7 linked regions of the Homo sapiens genome follow. The protein of the gene in region 2 purifies or fractionates together with the protein of the main gene of each other region. This does not show direct contact. Each region holds a gene or a part of one and is shown on either strand. Other genes may lie near its edges. The genes, in order: ESF1, NSDHL, ATP2A2, STRIP2, EXOC1, AKAP12 and POMT1.

Region 1 (3,500 bases), on a different chromosome or scaffold from region 2:
GGCTGACAGAGCGAGACTCTGTCTCAAAAGTAAAATAAAATAAATAGGGTAAGTAGGACTCCGTCTCAAAAATAAAATAAGAGGGTAAGTAGAGTTGAGTACTCATTCATTAATTTGTTCAGTTGCTTTGCCACTAGTATGTGGCAGGCAGAATATGAGTAAGGCGTCGTCACCCATCTCAGGGCTGTCGCTAGCTTATATGATGCCTTTATGCAAATTAGAAAAAGGCATGCTCTCTGGACACACAGAGCTCCCAGGGGTCACACTTTGGTGAAGAGATGGCGCCTTTGAAGCAACAGATTTTTTGCCCCTGAGCAGACACAGCCCCCTCCAGAGTGCATGGCTTGGTGAGTGTAGGATGGCCTTGATTTTAGCCCTTCTTGTCCTTTTATAAATGCCCCTGTGCGGATAACAGCCTGCTAAACTTTGTGCAGTGGCCCCTGTCTAAAGCAACATTGTCTAGTAGAAATACATAATTTTGGATTTTCTAGTAACCACATTAAAAAGTAAGATGAAACAGGTAAAATTATTTTAAATAATATATTTTATGTAACCCAATATATCAAAATTATTTCAATATGTAATCAATATAAAAGTCAATGTATATTTTACATCCCATTTTCTACTCATTTCATACTAATACTATTTTCATATTAATGTCAAGTTAGACAAAACGCATTTCAAGTGCTCCGTTACCACATGTGACTACTGGCTACCATATTGGACAATATAGATCTAAAGTAGAAGAAAGTCAGAACCATAATACAAAATGCAATAATAGTAAGTGCCGTAAAAGATGTTTAGCAGAAAGCCATGGAAATCTGGAGGAAGAAGTCACTCAAGATGTGGTAATCAGAAAAATTCATAGGGGACGCACTACTTTGGGGTGTGGAAAAATTTAAGTTTGAGGACCAGAGTGTGCTACATGGAAAGAACTTTTTGAGCAAAGATGTGATTGGGCATGTTCAGAAGAGGTCAGTAGTCCCGTTTGATTAGATAATAAGGTCTTGAAGGGCCAAAATGAGTAGCAGCGAGAAATGATTGTTTGGAACTAGGTGAGAGACAGCTGGCTCTAGTTTGCATTACGTGTTTACTAATTAAAATTTTTTGTCACCTCCAGCAGCAAGCAATTTTGAGTGTTGATGTTGCTGATAGTTGAAGATGTAACTGAAAACCAGTAGTAGTTCACATGAGCCAGACCTGTGATTACAGGATCCAAGGAGGGGTCTTGATAGGCCGAGAGGTCTTGATAGGCCAAGAGGTCTTGATAGCCCAAGAGTTCTTGATAGGCCAAGAGGTTTTGATAGGCCAAGAGGTCTTGATAAGCAGAGATCACACTGTGAGGGTAGAAGGTATCAGGCAGTGGAGTGAATTCTGGATAGCAAGGACTAGGGAGTCAGTGGTGGTATCCCATTTTACATTTGTAGTGGAACCAGGCAGCAGACCTCTTGAGGTGTGGGAAGAAAGGATAGGAATCCGGTTACTAAAATTGAAGAATAAGATTGGAGTGGGACCGGCAGCAAAGTTGATTTGACACTGAATTAGTGAGGTAAGTTAGTCTAGCATCCACTTCATTTGGGGCACTGAATTAATATAACATAGCTATATAATCCTTTAGATTGATTTTACAGACTTTTTTACATATCTTTTCTCATTTAATTTTCTTAGTTACCTTGAGCAATAAGACTGTATCAGCGAACAAGATTAAAGTGACTTATGTAAGGACATGCAGACCTGGAACTGCAACTCAAGTCTTCTGACTCCTTCTACCCCACCACATTGCTTGCAGTAATTTTGTTGGTTCCACAGTCTAGGAAAGGCATTACTCATAAATAAGGATTACACGGCTCCATATATAATCTTCTGTTCATTATCCATTCATCAGTTATTACAGCAATTACTGTGTGCAAGGGCCTTTTTAAGTGCTGTGAAGTAAAGGTGATGTGAGGACTTGCAGTGTGATATTTGTCATCATGAAATGTTCATGCCCAGCACTTGCACTCCTCAGAATCTATTTTACATAAATAATTGGATGTGTGCAAAGAATGTGCATTGCAGCATTATTTTTAAAATAAAACGGTAACTGGCTGGGCACAGTGGCTCACCTTTATAATCCCAGCACTTTGGGAGACCGAGGCGGGTGGATTGCTTGAGGTCAGGAGTTTGAGACCAGCCTAGCCAACATGGCAAAACCCGGTCTCTACTAAAAATACAAAAATTAGCTGGGCATAGTGGTGCACACCTGTAATCCCAGCTACTTGGGAGGCTGAGGCACGAGAATCACTTGAACCCAGGAGGTAGAGGTTGCAGTGAGCCAAGATCGTGCCACTGCACTCCAGCCTGGGCAACAGAGCAAGACCTTGTCTCAAAAAATGAAAATAGAAATTAAAATGGTAACAAATCATTAAGAGATTAATTAAATATATGCAAACATCTGTGATCTATGAAGTTTTAAAAATAGGTTCCAAAATAACGATATGACCAGTTATTTTAAACAAATTAGTATTTAAATTAAAGAAAAGAAATTTAGGGATATGGTTGTATACTAAAATAACCAGTTATCTTTGAATGAAAAATTACTGCTAGTCACCTTTGTTTTATTTATTAACCATATTTTCCTAACTTTTTTTGGTTTGTAATGATCATTCATTATGTTTATAATTGGGGGAAAATGGTAAAGCAGTTTTTTTGGTTTTTTTTTGTTTTTTGTTTGAAGTAGCTGGATAAGTAGTAATGTTTACAGTCACTACTAGAGCAATACTGTCTAGGAATAGAGACATTTATATTTGTGTAACCCCACATTATCTTGCACAAGGCTGTGTACATTGTGGGCTCTAAGCAGATACTTTTTGGGGTTTTTTATTTTTATTTTTGGAGACAGGGTCTCGCTCTGCTGCCCAGGCTGGAGTGCAGTGGTGCAATCACAGCTCACTGCAGCCGCAACTTCCTGGGCCCAGGTGATTCTCCCACCTCAGCCTTCCGAGTCACTGGGACCACAGGTGCACCCCACCATGCCTAGCTAATTTTTGTATTTTTGTAGAGACAAAGAGTTTTGCCATGTTGCCCAGGCTTGTCTCAAACTCCTGGGCTCAAGATCCTCCCATCTTGGCCTCCTAATATGATGGGATTACAGGCGTGAGCAGCTGTGCTCGGCTGCAGATACTTATTGAATGAATAAATACTCTGAATGCAGTTGATATTGTTAAAAACATTGAAATGGAAGACCTCTTTAAGTCTCTTATGCAACACTTTATTATTATATAACCCAAAGTGTGGTATGTGTACCATTGTCATAAGTGAGAAGATTTTTGATGATACTCAAACTTCTAAAATATTAATAGTTATGTACTGTGTCAACATCTTAGAAAACAATGTAATTACCCTATCACTTCTGTGACTTTAGGAATATTGTTTAGAGCAAAACTAACTTTTAAAAAATTCAATTTAATAAAAAAATGATATTCAAAAATCATGAAAATGGTATAATGACTGACAGTTGA
Region 2 (3,500 bases):
ACCAGCAGGCTGGACGCTGGGGACCCTCATAAGAGAATATCTTCCTTTAGAATAGCATTTCTTAAGAGGTCGTGTGGTGTGTGTATTCCTATGTGTGTTCACATGGCCAGGTCACTATCAGAATAGCCAGTGATCTTTTTCAGACATCTTCCTAGAAGTTTGCGGGCTGCCCTTCACTTACAACAGAGAATCGCTGTCATAGTGAGATACCATGAATGCAAGTCTATTCTATCTCTCAGGTGTGATGGGATAGAAAAAATGTGTTATCCCTTGTTTTGAAACCAAGATCTCTTGATTCTTGGTTAGAATGTAATACATAGTGTGTCTGGAATCCACATAGCTGCAAAAGATGGTGATCTTTGGATTATTTTAAGAAGGCATGAAAAGCAAAGGCATTGCAGCAAATAATTTCTTCAGTGCCTCGAATGCGAGGGCAACAAAGGGATGCCCCTGATTCTCTTTCATACAGGATCATGCACTGTTTGAATTGTGATAATTTGTGACTTTTATTTTTTCTGACCTTCCTCTGTCAGAAACTCATTTTAACCAGCAGTGCCAGTGTCATCTTTGAGGGCGTCGATATCAAGAATGGAACTGAAGACCTTCCCTATGCCATGAAACCCATTGACTACTACACAGAGACTAAGATCTTACAGGAGAGGGTATGTACCTTGGAACTGGTTGAGTGAGCAGACTGAAGGGTTTAGAATCCTAAGAAAAATGTTTATGAACTTATGAAGTTTGTATTCTGAGGCCTACGTACCTGATTTGAGATGTAAAATTTGTGGGTGAAATTAAATTTAAAAATACTGTGAGAGGCCGGGCACGGTGGCTCACGCTTATAATCCCAGCACTTTGGGAGGCCGAGGTGGGTGGATCACCTGAGGTCAGGAGTTCGAGACCAGCCTGGCCAACATGGCGAAACCCCATCTCTACTAAAAATACAAAAATTAGCCCAGCATGGTGGCAGGCGCCTGTAATCCTAGCCACTTGGGAGGCTGAGGTATGAGAATTGCTTGAACCTGGGAGGCGGAGGTTGCAGTGAGCCGAGATTGTGCCATTGCACTCCAGCCTGGGGGATAGAGAGAGAGAGACGCTGTCTCCCAAAAAAAAAAAAGTTACTATGAGAACAGCTTTATGTGGCCAGACACTGTTCTGAGTGTTTTCCAGGAGTATTTTCCTTGTTTAAAGGTCACAATTATCGCATCATCACCAGATTATAGATGAAGACTGTGGTGCACAGATGCACAGAGAGGCTCAGAACCTTTCTAAAACTGTGCAGCTAGGAGGTGGCTGACCCCAGGCAGTCTGTCTACAGAGCTTACAGCCCACCCTCAATGCCATGGGAGCTTCCTCGCCTGCTATGGGAATTTACAGCAGTTGCAAGCGTGCAGACAGGAATCAGGCTGGAGGCACCTTCCTAGTGGCACTCTCACCCCCTCCCTTACTTAGAAAAACAAACAACGGAAGGATCTTGCTTTATTTTAAGGAAAAAGTACTTTTCCACTTGGCAAAACAGCTTCATCAAAGGGCACCTGATTTTAGTATGGTTGGATTCAGCCACGGTCGCTACCAAGCCTTCAGGCTGCTGGGGCTGTGGGGCCCCTGACAACTGCTAGCTGCAGATGGGGATTGTCACCCTGAGGCCATCCTAAGCTGCAGGCCAGGAGTGCTCCTGAGCCTGGGATAGCTCGTCTTAGCTGGGTAGCTGTGAGTATACCCCTCCCAGGTGTGTGCAGTGTATCACACCCACTGAGGTTTTCTCGCAAAGCCGGTACATGCTGTACTGGAGCTGAACACTGACCTGGCTACCTGAGAGCCAGCTGCCTCCTGGCTGTTTGCCGTATTTTTTTTTTTTTTCTTTTTTGAGATGGATTCTCACTCTGTTGCCCAGGCTGGAGTGCAGTGGCACGATCTCGGCTCACTGCAACCTCCACCTCCCAGGTTCAAGCGATTCTCCTGCCTCAGCCTCCTGAGTAGCTGGGATTACAGGCGCGTGCCACCATGCCCGGCTAATTTTTGTATTTTTAGTAGAGACGGGGTTTCACCGTGTTGGTCGGATGGTCTCGAACTCCTGACCTCATGATCTGCCCGCCTTGGCCTCTCAAAGTGCTGGGATTACAGGCGTGAGCCACCATGCCCAGCCTGTCTGCTGTTGCTTCAGCTCAGAAAGTCCTGGCAGAACTGGTCCACAGGGAGACACAAGGGCCACCCAGACCAGGGGTGGAGGCTTGAACTTTGGCAAGCCACAGTCCTGGCTCCAGACTATGCTGTCTTGCTCCTTGGAGCACTCATGTGCTCGAACTTGGCCCAAGGAGTACTAAAGCCTCCCTGCGCCTTGCAGGCAGTTCAGTCACCATGGAGACCCTGTGTATTCTCAACCCAATATGCCTGATACTGATTGCCACCAGAGCTGAGCCCATCTAGGCTCAGGAGCTTCAAATGATGGCCTTGGCCCAGACCATCAGTGTCTCGCTTATATCAACTTTTGGGTTCTCAACTGGAAATAAGCAAAGCCTGCAGATGACTCCAGCAGTAACTCACCGGAAGCCTCCTTTCAGCCGAGGTTGACATCCACTGTTGGCTTTATAACCTTCCTACTGATCATAAACCAAATGTGATGGGGAGCTAGGACTCCTTCACCTCTCTTCCCTTTAGTAGTAGAGATGAGCCTTGGTGGAAGCCATTTGAGGGTTTATTTAGTCATTTCCTCCATCGCTGTGGGGACCAGAGTCCTGGCGGGAAGAGGAGGGCCAGCTCTGGGAATCTGTTGAGAGGCAGCTTTTCCATTGTTGAGTTGCTTAAGATCACTGGGGCCAAAACATAGACCAGCACTTTGCTACCATAGAGTAGAAGAAACCCGAGGTGACATGACAGCAGGAACCGTACTTACCAAGCATACAGACACGCACTGAAGCAACTCACATGGGCCATCTCGTGTAATTCGCATGCAGCCCCGTCAGGGTAGGTACCTTTATGATCACCACTTTTACCCACGATAAAACAAATCCTTTGGAAAGTTTTGTTACTTTTGAGGCGAAACCCATTTCACTGTGCTTTAGACTCTTGAGTTCTAGTTTGTCCATGAAGTCACACAGAAGTCACCCTTTCCTTGCGGTGGCAACAGGAGCACTGGCTCTGGACCAGGCACTGCTCTGAGGACTTTACATGTCTCGGCCTCCTTTGCCCCCCAGCTGCTGGCCTGTTTCTCCCCAGGCATGGTCTTCAGACCCTTCACCTTCTCTGACCCTCTTCTGGGCCCACTTGGGTTTCTCAGAGCCCTCCCCTCGGAGGTGATACTCAGAATTGCCTGGAACAGACCCGGCCTGGTGGAAACGTGGGCGGCACATGCAGTTCAAGTCACTGGAGGCTCACGGCTAACTTGTTTGCCAGAACCTTTGGACGTTTTCCACAAACTGCTGCCGAGGCATGTCTTCTGGCAGTGTTGGTGGATTTTAGCCTTTGAACGCAAACCAGGGCCTTCTGATTTGATCTTACCA
Region 3 (2,173 bases), on a different chromosome or scaffold from region 2:
GGGAGGCACGGGGTGGCAACAAGCGACACTGATGGCTGGGCCTTCAGCCACCTGCCCATCAGGAAAGAATGTGGAAGTAAGTTTCAGGCAAGAGCTGCCTGACAGCAGGCACATTGCGGGGCTGGGCAGCTGCTGCCTCACTGTTAGGTGAGGGCCTGAGGCCAGGGATGTGCCAAGACCACGGTGCTGGACCTGGTCTTTATGGGTTGACCTGAGGAGGAGATGCTGAAGTGTTTTCACCCAGCAAAGCCTTCAGTGAAATGGAGCAAGTGGCCCTGCTCAAAACAGCAGTGGGCCTAACCCACTCCCAGCTGTCTGGACCAAGGGAAGTGGGTCCCTCCATGGGCTCCTCTGTGGGCTGGAGGGGTCTGAAGCTGAGAAACCATGAAGCTAACTAGGGGCTGTGCGACAGCAGGCCACACACTACTCAACTTTTTTTGTAAAGGCCACTAAGTCAAGGAACTGAGTCAGGAAAAGCTGAGTTTTGTTTGCACGGAATAGCAATAGTGCAGCACTCAAGTCAGTTTGCAGCCCAGAGATGCACTCCTTGCATTTGGCCCATTCAACCCATTTCTTGTTACACCTCATGATGCTCAAACTGGCAAAATTTACCCCCTGCCCCAAATGTTCCCTGCTGGGCAAAGCAGCCTCCCTTCCCGAGAGCCACAGCTGCCTGCGAGCAGCCTTGGAGGCTTCACAGTAAGGCTGATTTTTTTTTGACAGGGCCTCACTCTGTTGCCCAGGCTGGTTTGAGTACCTGGGCTCAAGCAATCCTTCTGCTGTGGCCTCCAAAGGGCTGAGACTTACTTACAGGCATGAGCCACCACACCCAACCACGGACTGTGCTTTTAAGAGTCGGTCTCCAGGTTCCACCTCCATCCCTTGAACGTGGGCCCTCTGAACTCAGCAGCACCTTGTCCTGCTTGATGCCTCCTAACCCTCCCCAAACTCCAACCATCTGCATTACATCTACTGGCCATCCCAGTAACCAGAGCCTAAGTACATTTTGAAGAATATAGTCGAGGCCTCACACCCTGGCTAAGGAGTAAGCTGGTTTTTGGGCTGTGCAGAGCCACGTCCTACTAACTGTGCTTTAACATCCCCTGCAGAGCTAAGTCTTAGCCACCAAGGACAAGACCAAGCAAGGGGGGGTGGGGGAGTGGGGAAGTGGCCTATTTAAGACGAACCTATCGATACCCAGAGTTCACTGGTTCAGTTACTTGCTTTCACTAGTTTTTAGCTTTTTAATAAATAAGTAGCAATGTTCTGGGATGACTCCTGGCAGCTGCGAACCCTCATTTTAGCAATAGTCTGCACAGCTCCTTCAGCCTGTTGGTCTGGCTGAAATGCCTCTCTCCCCACTCCGGCTTTTGTCTGGCTTGGGCCCTCCTGGTCATCTTGTCCTAGGCAGCCTGTGGAGGTCTATGAAAGCCACACCTCCAGCCAGCTGATGCTGCGCCCGAGTCACATGGCAGGCGCCACAGGCAACCCCGGTGCTCACAGGGCATCAGGGAGCACAGCAGCATCTGCCATGGAGGCGGCTTATAAGTTAGTGACATACAGTTATCTCACTTGGTGGCAGTCACCTTTAGGCTAAAGCATCCAAATCCCAGGAAGAAAATACTCACGTTAGTTGATGGATGTTGGAAGGCATTGGAGGAAAACACCACAGTTAGGACTGTTAATGACTTACACACTGTTGGTGAGACTCATCTCGAACATGCGCAAACATTGATCGTAGTAACGGTGGTGGTGGTTAGTGCCACATTCAAATAAAAATAGTTCTATACAATATGTTCATTTGGTCATGTGCTATTTACAGATTTTACAAAACACACACATACACACACATACACACTTGCCCTTATGTTCTCTATACCAGGCCAGCAGAAACTTGCATAAAATGTACATCACAGATGACAATTAGTGCCTGTACATTAAGAATACAATTCCTATGACTACCTACACAGCAGAGCAGGAGCCTTCTTCCCCTCAAGCAGAGTACAACTAAAGTTCTGAGCTAAGAACTGGAGAGAAAGTTGGACATGTCTGTTAGTCCCAGGTAAGCCACTTACGAGTTAAAGACAAGACAGTTATTTTTCTCTGTCCATTTAAAATGTTTTATTTTTTTAAAACTAGATGACGTGCCACTGAAATAGGCAATGTTGGCAAA
Region 4 (3,500 bases), on a different chromosome or scaffold from region 2:
TTTATTCTCTGTGCTCATGCACAAGAACGTCTTTAAAATTGTTTGTCTCTTTTCTCTGAAAAAGCATGCCTCAAAGTATCACTTCCATGTGACAGAATATTTAAATTTCACACATCTCCACCCAAAGCTTGTTTATTAATAACTGGCATTCATAGCACATGTAACATGGAGGCCCTTAATGTGAGGAGATCACATTTACCCTAAGCTAAAAATCCAGACAGAGACAAGCAGGCCAGCACTGAAAGAAGAATGGAATTACTTAACCCCAGCTCATAAACATCCAAGCAGAACTCTACTATGATGGATGCAGGTGACATGTCCAGCCTTGCTCAGCTGGCCAGTTGACTATAGTTTTTCCTCGGACTTTGCTGAGATTTTAATAAGGGGCAGTTGCGAGAGGAAGAAGGAAAAGATGGAGGTAGAGGAGACAAAGGAAAAAGAGATGGCATGGGATAGAAAGAGGGCAGCAGAAAGAAGTAGGCAGGCAAAGATATGGGTGACAGGAAGAGAAAAAGAGAAGGAATATGGAGAAGATGGAGAGAAAACTGATTTGAGAGTGCACCAAATCAGTTATTTTCAAAGAGAATAAAGAAGAGTGAGCAGGAAAGAGTGATAGAATGACAGAATGAAGAATACCATAGCCAAGGAGAATCACAGAAGGAAATGTGAAGACAAACAAAGAGATATTTACCACTTGGATGGAGAGGAAAAGGAATGTGGAGAACAGCCTTTGTTCAACAGCCACTTGGTGAGAACAGACAAGCTTCCAGGGAGATCACAGGCCCCTTCCCTCTCCTCCTGGCCATTCTTCCACTAGCTACTGACCCATCTACCTCATACCTGACAACTCGGCTGCATGCCCATCTGCATCTCCATACTCAAACTCCAGAGTGGGACAGTCCACAGAGCCCTGTAACAGAGAAATTTTGTTGGTAACTGGGATAACTTGGAAAAAGGGGTTGCCAAGGGAAGACTGTACCCTTATTTATCTTCTTCCCCTCATGGAGGCCAAGGTTAGATCAGGGAGACAGTTAGGAGAGTCCTATTTGGGTCTTTCATCTCAGAGGTACCCTACGCCAAGCCAAAACTTGAGTCTCAGTGTGGGGAGGGGCTGAGGATTCCTATACAAAATCGGAAAGTCTGAATAAAGGGCCAGGATCTCAAACATATATGAAAGCTATGGTCTGTGTCCATATCTAATCTACATGAACACAGACCAGAGGAGCATCTAGCTGATTTATATAAAATTGAGACAGACAGAAACAAAGAGAACTGGATTCTAGCTTCAGTTCTGTCATCAACCCACTGTATGATATAGATCAAGTCTCATGCTGTGGATCATAGTTCCTTATTTTTAAAGAGGTTCTTTAGCTCTAATATTCTGCAACTTTAGGATTGTCAAATGATGCAACATCTCCACTCCAAGTTGTAGTAAAGATTACATTTCCCATGACGTTGTATGTATAAATTTATAATCCTAGTAAATATGTTTTAATATAATCCCATCTTCTAACTTAAACATTTTGGGATATTTCCTTCCTGTATATGTTCATACATATGAATTTTTAAAATTTTCAATCTCAGCTCTGTCACATACTATTTGATCTTGGACAAGTTAACCTCTCTGTGCCTCAGCGTGACATAAAAAATATACTGTTCTTTGCCCCTGGTTCCTGGTACAGAGCTCCTGAAACTCTTAGAAGTTCCTGAGTGATAGGAGTGTCAGTTATTCATAATGAGTCACTGTCAGCTTTACCAGAATTTATGCTCATGAGGTGACTTATGTTAGGAAAGACGGAGCACATGATTAGAGGGTTTAACTTTCAGCACCACCCCCACATCCAGGGAGGGGAGGGGTACTACAGATTAAGTTCAGTCATGTGGCCAATAGTTTAATTATGTCTAGGTAATGAAACACCATAGGAAAACCCAGAAACAACTAGGTTCAGGCAGCTTTTGGGTTGGGGAACAAACAGATGTGCTAGGAGAGTGCTGCCCAGGGAAGATAAGGAAACTCTGCATCACCCCAAACCCATACTTCGTCCTTCGCATCTCTTCCATTTAGCTGTTTCTGAGTCATATCCTTTATAATAAAATTATAATTCTAAGTACATGCTTTCCTGAATCCTGTGAGTTATTCTAGCAAATTATGGAACCTGAAAGGAAGATCATGATAACCGCTTAATTTGTAGTTGGCCAGGCTGAAGTGTAGATAGCTTGGGGATCCCACCTATGGCTGGTGTCTAACGTAGGGCCTTGTAGGACTGAGCCCTTAACTTGGGGGTCTGTGCTAATTCTAGGTAGTTAGTGTCAGAATCGAATTGAACTGTAGGACATCCAGTTGGTGTCAGCGAATTGTTGGAAAATGACCTGCTCAGTTTTCCCATCTGTAAAATGAGGATAATAACAGGACTTACTTCATAGGGTTATTTTAAGGACTAAATGAGTTAATATAGGAAAGGCACACGGCCTAGCACTTCGTAGCACTATGTGAGTGGTCACTCTATGATTTTAATATTATACTATAAAGGCATTCTTCTCACATTATTATGACTATTAGTTTAAATGGTTGTATAAATGGATGTACATTTATTTGTTTACTTAACTAGTTCCTTATTGAATATTTAAATGGTTTTTAATTTTCCTTTATTATATGCAACAAACTGTAATAGACTTACACTTTTTTCTATATTTAGGATATTTCCTAAGCATAGATTTTTATAAAGAAAATTAATGAATCAAATCTTATGAACATTTTAAAGTCTCTTTGTATATAAGTTGCTCCCCCAAAACATTATGCCAATTTATACTGTCAACAAAGCAAATTGGCCGGGCGCAGTGGCTCACGCCTGTAATCCCAACACTTTGGGAGGCCGAGGTGGGCGGATTACGAGGTCAGGAGATCGAGACCATCCTGGCTAACACGGTGAAACCCCGTCTCCACTAAAAATACAAAAAATTAGCCGAGCATGGTGGCGGACGCCTGTAGTCCCAGCTACTCGGGAGGCTGAGGCAGGAGAATGGCGTGAACCCGGGAGGCAGAGCTTGCAGTGAGCCGAGTTTGCGCCACTGCACTCCAGCCTGGGTGACAGAGTGAGACTCTGTCAAAAAAAAAAAAAACAAAAAAAAACAAGGCGAATCATGTTTTAATCCACTATAGCAAAGATTTCCAAACTTTTGGATTAAAAGGAACAGTAGGGAAAAAGAAAAAGGTGGAGAGTGGCAAATGACATAGGGTTGTTGCTGTTTTATTCTGATAGGTAAGGACTTTAAAAACTTTAAAAAATTCAAAAAATGAAAGACAGAATCTCAGAATAAAGAACAGCCATTAAAAATTGTTTTTCAAACTTTTTGGAAAAATGATACCTTTTACATTACGTCCCAGCACACACACACACACACACAAACTGGAACAAAAGTTTAACAAAATATTTACCTTTACTGCATGTGATGCAGTGATATTTTCTATTATTCTCTTTCTTTTCTTTTTTTTTTTAAGA
Region 5 (3,469 bases), on a different chromosome or scaffold from region 2:
CCTCTCTTCTATATATGGGCATATTGTATGTGTGCTTTCTTTAATATAAAAGTGTTGTCATACCTGACACACTATTTTTGAAGCTGCTGGACTCTATATAATCTTAGTATCTTTCTTAGTTAGTTAATATAGATAAACATAATCATTTTTAATGATTGCATAGTCATCCATATGTCATTATCCATTTACCAAATCTTCTATTAATAAACATTTAGGATTTTTTTAGTTTATCTATCTTTGTATACTTGTCAAATAATTTCTTTAGGGTAAATTACTAGAAATGGAATTACTGGGTCAAAGGATTTATGTATCTCAAGTCTTTTCCCAAATTGTGATACAGAAAGCTTATGTCAGTTTAGTGCTATGAGCAGTTGCATTACAGCTGTACCAATGCTGGGTTTTACTAGGTATTACCAATCTTTTTATTCTTTGTCAACCTGATAGGCTATAAATTATCTCACTATTTTATTTTGCATTTCATTGATTTTGTATATGGTGTCTTTACTTTACATGAATTTTCAAATTTTATCTCCAATTTATTTATCTTTCCCCTTAACAGTCTTCTAAATTTTGGGCCATTCTTAGCAAGGTCACACTATTGCAAAATTATTATTTTTCTATTAGTTATATTTTCTTTAGTACTTATGATTGTATTATTTGTTTGCTTTTTACATTTTAAATAATTTAGCAATTTAGAATTTGACTGCAAGATGTAAAGTAGGAACTTAAATTTCATATATTAAAATGGTCCAGCCGGTTGTCCTAACACATTTTGAATAATTCATCATTTCTCCATTGATCTGAAAAGCTACTTTTATTATATACTGAATTTCCATATACACATGGGACTGTTTTAGGATGACTTTTTATTATGATTAGGTAGATCTGAAGACTCCCATTACAATATATTGTATTAAGTCCAGAAATGTGCTTAATTCTTAAACTTACAAATGAAAAAAAATTAATAGTATAAATGTTTATAGCTAAATATGGTCATACTCAGAGATGTTATTTTATTTTTTCTGTTTTGGTTTTAGTGGAGAAAGTAGCAAATGAAAGCCAGAAGACCCCCAGGGATGTGGTTATGATGGAAAACTTTCACCATATTTTTGCAACTCTTTCTCGATTGAAAATCTCATGTCTAGAAGCAGAAAAAAAAGAAGCCAAACAAAAATACACAGATCACCTTCAGTCTTATGTCATTTACTCTTTAGGACAACCTCTTGAAAAACTAAATGTAAATATATTTTCATTCAGTATTTTTCCTACTTTTGAACCTATACACATAAGTTTGCATATGAATAACCTGCAGACATTTATCTTAAATTTTCTCATGTGTTGGTGCACAGGGGACTCAGTTATTGAAGCTGCCAGTGTGCCAGACACTGCTAGATGCTATATATTTTATTTCTTCTTTCTGTACATTATTTTTATACATTATTTATCTACTATATTTTAATGATAATTGTACTAGTATTCTATTATGCATTATTTCTTTTAATTCTTATAAACAATGATGTGTAAGCTAAGATAATATTATCCCCATTTCACAAATGAAGAAACTGAAAGTAAAAAAACTTGCCCGACATCATAATAGCTTATAAATTACAAAGCTGGGGGATGAACCTAGATTAGGCTTTGCCGTTACTCTTTCCCATTTCTTACTTTATAAATGACCAAGTTTACAATGTCTAGGTGGAAATTTCAAAAATATTATTAAGATAAAAGAAAAACCAAAAATTGCTTTCTACATTGCCTTTTACTTTTCTTTCCCTTCTTTTTTTTTCCTTACTTGAGTCATTTCCCAGAGTAAGTCTGTTAATTAAAGTTAAGAAATGATGATTTTAGGGAACTTTACAAGATAGTGAAAGCTTAAATGAACCTTTTAAACTAACTTTGTCTGCAATATAGTTATCTTTTATAAGCTCTTAACTTGAAGTTAGAGTAAAATAGCGCGGTGACTCACACCTGTAATCCCAGCACTTTGGGAGGCCAAGGCAGGCGGATCACGAGGTCAGAAGATCGAGACCATCCTAGCTAACAAGGTGAAACCCCGTCTTTACTAAAAATGTAAAAAAAAATTAACTGGGCGTGGTGGCACGCTCCTGTAGTCCTAGCTACTTGGGAGGCTGAGGCAGGAGAATCACTTGATCCTAGGAGGTGGTGGTTGCAATGAGTGGAGATCACACCACTGCGCTCCAGCCTGGGCGACAGAGCAAGACTCAGTCTCAAAACAAAACAAAAAAAAAGAATATGTATCTGCTGTCAACAATTCAAAGAAATACTTGAAAGACATTTAATCAAATGCAGAACTAATTCCTTATAAAACTTAAGAACAGACAAATATTCCTTTAACTGGATAAAAGATCTATCTCAGGCCTAAAGCTTACATGATACTTAACTGCAACGTTAGAGACATTCCCTCTGAAATCAATTTAAAGCAGAAATATTGTTAGATCCTTTATTATTTAGCATTGTTGTTGAAGCACTAGCCAGTTCAACAAGACCTGAAACATAAATAAGAGATATGGAAAACAGAGACGAGATTATCACCACCTGTATATGATATGTTGAAATTACTGGTGTTGGTCAAGTGACAAAATTTAAAGCAAATATACTGAAAAACAATGTATTTCCTGTCTACCAATTAAGAGCTTATGTAAAAACAAAATTTTTAAAGCACTAAGAATAACTTCTCAAAGAATGATAATTTAATGAATAATCACTAAGAAAATTTTAGAAAAAAGTAATGAGAGGGAATGGGGTTTGTCAGCATTAATTCTTTGTATCGTGCTCAAATACAGTTATGCCAGTCAATAAAAGTATATATATAAAAGAAGACCTGGGAATAATAGTTACAATAATATAACAGAGTCAGTATATTTAATATAAAAAATCTTACTAAAATCAATAAGAAAAGCACTAAGACCCCAATTTATAAATGGGGCAAGGGGCTGAATCACTACTAAACATATAAAAGCAGGTTAACCTTATTTATAGCCAAAGAATTATAAAATAAAATGACAAACTTTTTTTACTCTGGCAACTATTGTTATAAATTGTCATAATGCTTATGATGGTATAGTGAAGTAGCAACCTCATACACTGTTGACAGAAATATAAATTGGTTGAGCTTTCCTAGGAAGCAGTTTGTATATATACTGAAGAATCTTTCAAATACTTAAAGTTATGCTCTTCAACAGAGTAATTATAGTCCTGGAAATTTAATCAGTAAGATGGGTAAATACTTATATACAAAAAAAATTTATGACAAATATATTTATAGTAGATTTTCTAAAGTCTCACTAGATTTGCCAAGTCCAAAAAAAGAAGGGGGAGTGGGATGTTAAATATCTAGTACTAGAGGAATGAATAATAATTGTGGTTCAGTCATTGTGTGAAATATTATGCAGCCATTAAAATTTATATTTAGGAAAAAACAATATTAAATGTAAAGTGGGACATGAAA
Region 6 (3,500 bases), on a different chromosome or scaffold from region 2:
CACCTCCTGCACCGGAGTGGCCTCCTCTGTGGTGTCTGGGGAGTCGGTTAACTGGGAGACTGCTGACACCATTTCTGTGGTCTCTTCAGCAGCAGATGCTTCGGTTCCTTCTTCGGCACCCAATGGCCCTGCAGTTTCTGCAGCTGTCACAGCTTCGGGGGTCAATTCCGCCTCACTAACGACCGTGTCGCCCCGGGCCTCTCTGTTCTCTGGCAGAGGTTCAGTAACCGTGGGGGGTTCTTCTTCTGCAATTACTTCTCTTTCCAATACCTCCTCAGTTAACAGTGCGGCTTCAGCTTCTACTTGTTCAAGAGGTTCTGTCACTGAAGCAGATATCCAAGAAGGAGACCTTTCTTCAATAATGGTAGCTGCCCTCGTCCCGTCAGCGACAGCTGCTGCCATCATATGAACCTGACTCTCGCTGAGCTCCTTGGACACCTCAGTGGCTGCCTTCTGCTCGGGCTGCTCTGCGCTTTTTTGGGCTTGCTGTGCCTCCATTTTCTCCCTTTCTACAGCATCATACTCAGACAGAGGGACCACGGCCGGGACATCAGAGTCATCTTCGTTGGCCCCTGTTGGCCCTGCGTCTTCAACAGGGGCTTGTTCTTGTTTCCCATCTGGCCTTTTCTTCCTTCGTCCAGGAATAAACTTCTTGATTGAGACCCAGGATTCTTCTTTACCGGGTTCAGTGTCTGGAGTGGAATGTTCTACACCAGACCCAGCTATGGAGTCTTCGCTTTTCTCTTCCAGCTTGGACTTTGATTTTTTTCTTGGCGTGACTAACCTTTTAAATGACTCCCAGGTGGAAACGCCCTCCCCTTCGGTAGGGCTTCCAGCTTGCTCCGGGGAGGAACTTCCCTGCCCTGGATCATGTTCTTGGGAACCAGCAAGGATCCCGTCTGTCCCCGTCTCTTTGTCTTTTCCGGCCTCATCAGCTTTCTGGTGGTCTCCTCCCATTGCTTTTGGTCCCCCTTCCTCATCAGAAGAGGACCCTCTCCTTGCTCTTTTCTTGGATGATCCCACACAAATTAAAGCTTCCCAAGATACTGAGGTATCCACCTTGCGCTTTGGTTCTTCCGGCTTTGGCTCTTCCACGCTCCCTTTCATTTCTTCTTGCATTTCAGAGGCTGTGCTCTCGGTGGAAGACAAGGTAGCGCTCTTGACCTTGTCCAGCTCATCTTCTTTATCACTTTCCGAAGGCCGTCTAACACGCTTCTTGGGCGTCACCATCTTTTTGAATGATGCCCAGGGAGTGACACCTTCTCTTTTTTTCTCTCCATCGGAAGTAGCTCCTTCTTCAGCTTCCCCATCCTGCTGCACCTCGGCTAAGCCCTTTTCCAGACACGTGATCTCCTCGGGCTCCTCAGGGGATGAGGCAGAGCTCTCGCCCTTTTGCTCCTCCTGGCTGTCCGGAGAATCGGCTGGAACCTGAGTGTGCTCCCCTGATTCCTCGTCTCCTCCTCCTCTTTTCCCTTTCTGTTTCTTTCCAGAAAGCTTTTTTAAGCCAGTGCTGGTAAAAAGCTTCTTTAGTGGACTTCCCTGCACCTTCATTCTCTCCTGTGATGACAGCATTTCCACCTCACTCACAACGCCTTCGGGGGGTTTGGACAGCACCTTCTCATCAGGACTGAGGTCAGCTCCCTGTGTAGGGTCCTCTCCGGAAACACACGTTTCTTTGAGCTTCACCAGCTCCTTGGCAGGTTCAGCTTCCTGAGGTTCTGCATCCATTTCAACCAATTCTTCAGCTGGCACAGACCCTGCTGTTTCTTCCACCTCCGTTTTCTGCTCTTCGGTTCTCTCCTCCACGGTGCTGACGTGGACTTCGGCCACAACCTCTTCTTGGTGGACTTCTATTTTCTCATCAAACACTTCTGTCGCCAACGGAGCAGGTTTCTCTTCAGAAGGTCCCTGCGAGCCACTGACTTGCTCCTCTGAGGGCAGCTCAACTTTCTCATATTCAGCTGATAACCGGGGCTCGTGGGCACTTTCTGCCGGCTCCTGTGGGTGGGCTTGCTCGGAGGCGGTCAGTTTCTCGGAGGCAACCTCTGCCTTTCCGTCTTCTTCTGTGTCTACTTTTTCTGGCTCTTGTTCCTTTTTCTTCTCTGAAGCTTCCACTTCATCCTCCTTCGGCTTCCTGAAACTGGTCTTTTTGCGCCAGCCGGCCCAACCTTGAGTGAAGAATTTTTTGAAGGTTGATCCTGTTTCACTGGTCACGGGACTAGTCGGAGATTCTGCAGACTTGCTAGGTTCTTTTTCTTGTTTCTCTTCTCCTTCCTCTTTGCATTCCTCCACTGCTTGGCCAGATTCGGCTGGGGGAGAAATTTCTGCGTGGCTTTGCTCACGCTTCAGGGTCTCTTCGGGTTTCTCTGTAGATTGTTTGGGTTCGCTTTCTTTGGATGCTGCTTCTCCAGCCCCAAGGCTGGGGTCCTTGTGGTCGCCAGCCCCTGCTGCTCCCTCCCCTTCATCTTTCTTCACAGTGAGTAGCTGGACAGTGTCAGGCTTCTCTGTCTTATCCTTTTTCACAGTGAATTTAAAGCCAACAAACTTAAACACCTTCTTAAATCCAATATCATTAGCCTGGGACTCAGTGGGTTGTGTTAGCTCTTCTAAATTGCTTTCTGAAGAAGGAATCTGTTCGATTATTTCGGGTGTCTCCTCCTGCCCATCATCTGTGATGTCGTGAACAACCGCTGACTTAGTAGCCATCTCTTTATCGGAGTCTCTTTTGCTCACATCTTCAGAGTCTCTCTGTCCAACTATTAACAAAAAGGGGCGGGGGGGTGGGGAGAAGAGAAAAGGTGATTACAATACAAGAAAATTGTTTTTCTCCGACAGGGCCTCACTCTCTTGCCCCGGCTGGAGGGCAGTGGTGTGGTCTCGGCTCACTGCAGCCTCAACCTCCCAGGCTCAAGGAATCCTCCCACCTCAGCATCCCGAGTAGCTGGGACTACAGGCACATGCCACCATGTCCAGCTAAGTTTTTTATTTTCTGTAGAGATGAGATCTCACTATGTTGTCCAGGCTGCTCTCCAACTGCTGGGCTCAAGTGACCCTCCTGTCTCAGCTTCTCAAAGCAGTGGGATTACAAGTGTGAGCTATAGTGCCTAGCCCAAGAAAATTAACTTTTTTTTTTTTTTTTTTTGAGACAGAGTCTCACTCTGTCGCCCAGGCTGGAGCACAGTGGCACGATCTCGGTTCACTGCAACCTCTGTCCTAGGTTCAAGTGATTCTCCCACCTCAGCCTCCTGATTAGCTGGGATTACAGGCGTCTGTCACCATGCCCAGCTAATTTGTTTTTTTTGTTTGTTTTTTTTGAGATGGAGTCTCACTCTGTCACCCAGGCTGGAGTGCAGAGGCACGATCGTGGCTCACTGCAAGCTCCGCCTCCTGGGTTCACGCCATTCTCCTGTCTCAGCCTCCCGAGTAGGGAGGCTAATTTTTTTTTTTTTGTATTTTTAGTATAGAGACGGGGTTTCACCGTGTTAGCCAGAATGGTCTCG
Region 7 (2,191 bases), on a different chromosome or scaffold from region 2:
GTAGTTCACTGCCCAGCCACCGGCACACAGCGCCCCAGCCAGCACCCAGCGCAGCCAGGCATCTATAGGAAAGGGCTCGAGCTACACCGACTCTGCTGCTCCCACAGGCCGGGTCTTCTCTCTCTTTTGCTTTTTTAGAGAGAGGGTTCTTACTATGTTGCCCAGGCTGGTTTTGAACTCCTGGCCTCAGGTGACTCCCTCACTTTGGCCTCCCAAAGTGCTGGGATTACAGGTGTAAGCCACCGCGCCCGGCCTGGCTGCCTGTGTTACCCAGCCATTTCCAGCGCATACGGGCAACATGGGACCAAGAGGGCAATTCCTGCCCAATACGCTGCACTCGACTGGAGACACCTCTAACGCAACATGGGAACTTAACATTTTGTCTCTTGGGAGACAAACATAATTTAAGATTCCACAATACAGAAACAAAGAGGCCGCGTTAAGGGGTAGGTTCCTATGAAGTCGGTTTGTCACTTGAGGCGGTGAATGCTCAGCGCACACCTGTAATCCTAGCACTATGGGAGGCCGAGGCAGGAGGATCGCTTAAGCCCAGGAGTTCAAGAACACCCTGGACAACACAGCAAGACCCCATGTCTATATTAAAAAGAAAGAAAGCCATGTGGGAGAGGTACTAACCCTGAGGGAGGTCATGGACATTTCTTCGCCGTCGGAGCAGGTACCACAAGGACAGCAGGGCGTAGATGGCCAGAGCGAGGCTGCCCGAAACCCAGATCACTATGTTTCCAAGTAGGTGGATCTGAGCCTAAGGGAACATGGGAGATGCTGTTAGCCACCTGCCCTCTGCTCAGGGAGGGAAGAGAAGAGAACACAGGAAAGGAATTCAGATGCACGCACTACTTTAGCAGAGTGAAAAAACGCCAGGCACAGCCTAGCATCCACTAGGCCTTACTACTACTGTGGACAGGTCTGCTCCTACTCAGACCTTTCATTAAAAGCACTGATGCCAGCCGGGTGTGGTGGCACATGCCTGTAATCCCAGCACTTTGGGAAGCTGAGGTGGGCAGATCACCTGAAGTCAGGAGTTTGAGACCAGCCTGCCCAACGTGGCGAAACCCCGTCTCTATTAAAAAGTACAAAAATTAGCTGGGCATTGCGGTGGGCACCTGTAATACCAGCTACTTGGAGGCTGAGGCAGGAGAACTGCTTGAACCTGGGAGGTGGAGGTTGCAGTGAGCCAAGATCACGCCACTGTACTCCAGCCTGGATGACAGAGCAAGACTCCGTCTCTCTCTTTCTCTCTCACATACACACACACACACAGCACTGATGCTCTCAATTTTGTAATTGGAAACTGAAAATTGGGAGCAGATGACTCCACTTTGTAACAGCAGCGCTGTCCACGGAGGAGAATGCAAAGTGCGCTCAGAGCTCGGGGTGGGGCGGCCTCTGGGCCTGAGCCTCTGCCTTCAGTGCACATGCTGAGCCGACCTACCCGCCTCTGAGGGAGGAGGAAAAAGGTGGGCATTTCCAGCGTCTGCCCATTCAGTGAATATTTATGGGGCGCTGACTGTGCGCCCGGCCTACCAATGCTTTCACTCTGCCGGGTGGAGAGACGGCACGCACATCAGCAAAGCACCGGTAAGCTCCACCACCAGGTGCCACACGGAAAATTGAATGGGAATATCTTAAAACCACTTTCGCCAGGAAAAGGGGAACAATGTGTCTCCACAAAAGCAATCAAGCCGGGTTTCCTTCAACAGGCACACATGCCACACCCCTACTCCTGGCTCCAGGTTGCCAAAGCGTTTAGAGAAAACCAAGTCACAGGCCTTTGTCAGGAAAAGCTTGGGAGAAACCCAGCACTTTCTAGGGTGCAGCGGCTGCTCTTAATGCAAGGAATTCTCAAGAAACAGGATGAATCTATGACTGTCAGCTGTCAGCATCGCTCGCTTACGCTGGTCCTGGGGTGCAGCCAGTAGGCAATATTGGTGTCCAGGGTGACCCACTCCAGTGGGCTGGAGCTGTACTTGTGTTCCGAGTCATCACTTCTCAGCGCCAGCATCCTCCACTGGAACAAAGCAGAGGCCTCTGAGATTGAGGATGGGGGATGCCTCCCGCTGTGCGTGGATTTGGTCAAAGGAGTACACTGCTGCCCCTTGCACGTGGACTGGCCCAGCTCAAGTTCATTCGGATCATGCATCGGAGGCAGCATGATGAGAACCTGGATTCC

The links.
Region 1: the proteins of NSDHL (region 2) and ESF1 fractionate together in Homo sapiens (co-fractionation; one large-scale study listed by BioGRID). This does not show direct contact.
Region 3: the proteins of NSDHL (region 2) and ATP2A2 purify together in Homo sapiens (affinity purification with mass spectrometry; one large-scale study listed by BioGRID and IntAct). This does not show direct contact.
Region 4: the proteins of NSDHL (region 2) and STRIP2 purify together in Homo sapiens (co-immunoprecipitation; one large-scale study listed by IntAct). This does not show direct contact.
Region 5: the proteins of NSDHL (region 2) and EXOC1 purify together in Homo sapiens (co-immunoprecipitation; one large-scale study listed by IntAct). This does not show direct contact.
Region 6: the proteins of NSDHL (region 2) and AKAP12 purify together in Homo sapiens (affinity purification with mass spectrometry; one large-scale study listed by BioGRID and IntAct). This does not show direct contact.
Region 7: the proteins of NSDHL (region 2) and POMT1 purify together in Homo sapiens (affinity purification with mass spectrometry; one large-scale study listed by BioGRID and IntAct). This does not show direct contact.

Annotation. Positions count from the first base shown.
Region 1 is NC_000020.11:13,778,420-13,781,919, reverse strand, and holds part of ESF1 (ESF1 homolog), read left to right. Parts: intron 1-3,500. UniProt on the Homo sapiens protein: May constitute a novel regulatory system for basal transcription. Negatively regulates ABT1.
Region 2 is NC_000023.11:152,862,063-152,865,562, forward strand, and holds part of NSDHL (sterol-4-alpha-carboxylate 3-dehydrogenase, decarboxylating), read left to right. Parts: intron 1-533; coding exon 534-662; intron 663-3,500. UniProt on the Homo sapiens protein: Catalyzes the NAD(P)(+)-dependent oxidative decarboxylation of the C4 methyl groups of 4-alpha-carboxysterols in post-squalene cholesterol biosynthesis. Also plays a role in the regulation of the endocytic trafficking of EGFR.
Region 3 is NC_000012.12:110,347,247-110,349,419, reverse strand, and holds part of ATP2A2 (sarcoplasmic/endoplasmic reticulum calcium ATPase 2), read right to left. Parts: 3' UTR 2,028-2,173; coding exon of another isoform or gene 2,008-2,027; 3' UTR 1-2,007.
Region 4 is NC_000007.14:129,437,432-129,440,931, reverse strand, and holds part of STRIP2 (striatin-interacting protein 2), read right to left. Parts: intron 911-3,500; coding exon 841-910; intron 1-840. UniProt on the Homo sapiens protein: Plays a role in the regulation of cell morphology and cytoskeletal organization. Required in the control of cell shape. Calmodulin-binding scaffolding protein which is the center of the striatin-interacting phosphatase and kinase (STRIPAK) complexes.
Region 5 is NC_000004.12:55,898,648-55,902,116, forward strand, and holds part of EXOC1 (exocyst complex component 1), read left to right. Parts: intron 1-1,037; coding exon 1,038-1,237; intron 1,238-2,187; exon of another isoform or gene 2,188-2,507; intron 2,508-3,469.
Region 6 is NC_000006.12:151,347,967-151,351,466, reverse strand, and holds part of AKAP12 (A-kinase anchor protein 12), read right to left. Parts: intron 2,757-3,500; coding exon 1-2,756. UniProt on the Homo sapiens protein: Anchoring protein that mediates the subcellular compartmentation of protein kinase A (PKA) and protein kinase C (PKC).
Region 7 is NC_000009.12:131,519,918-131,522,108, reverse strand, and holds part of POMT1 (protein O-mannosyl-transferase 1), read right to left. Parts: intron 2,030-2,191; coding exon 1,916-2,029; intron 764-1,915; coding exon 637-763; intron 63-636; coding exon 1-62. UniProt on the Homo sapiens protein: Transfers mannosyl residues to the hydroxyl group of serine or threonine residues. Coexpression of both POMT1 and POMT2 is necessary for enzyme activity, expression of either POMT1 or POMT2 alone is insufficient.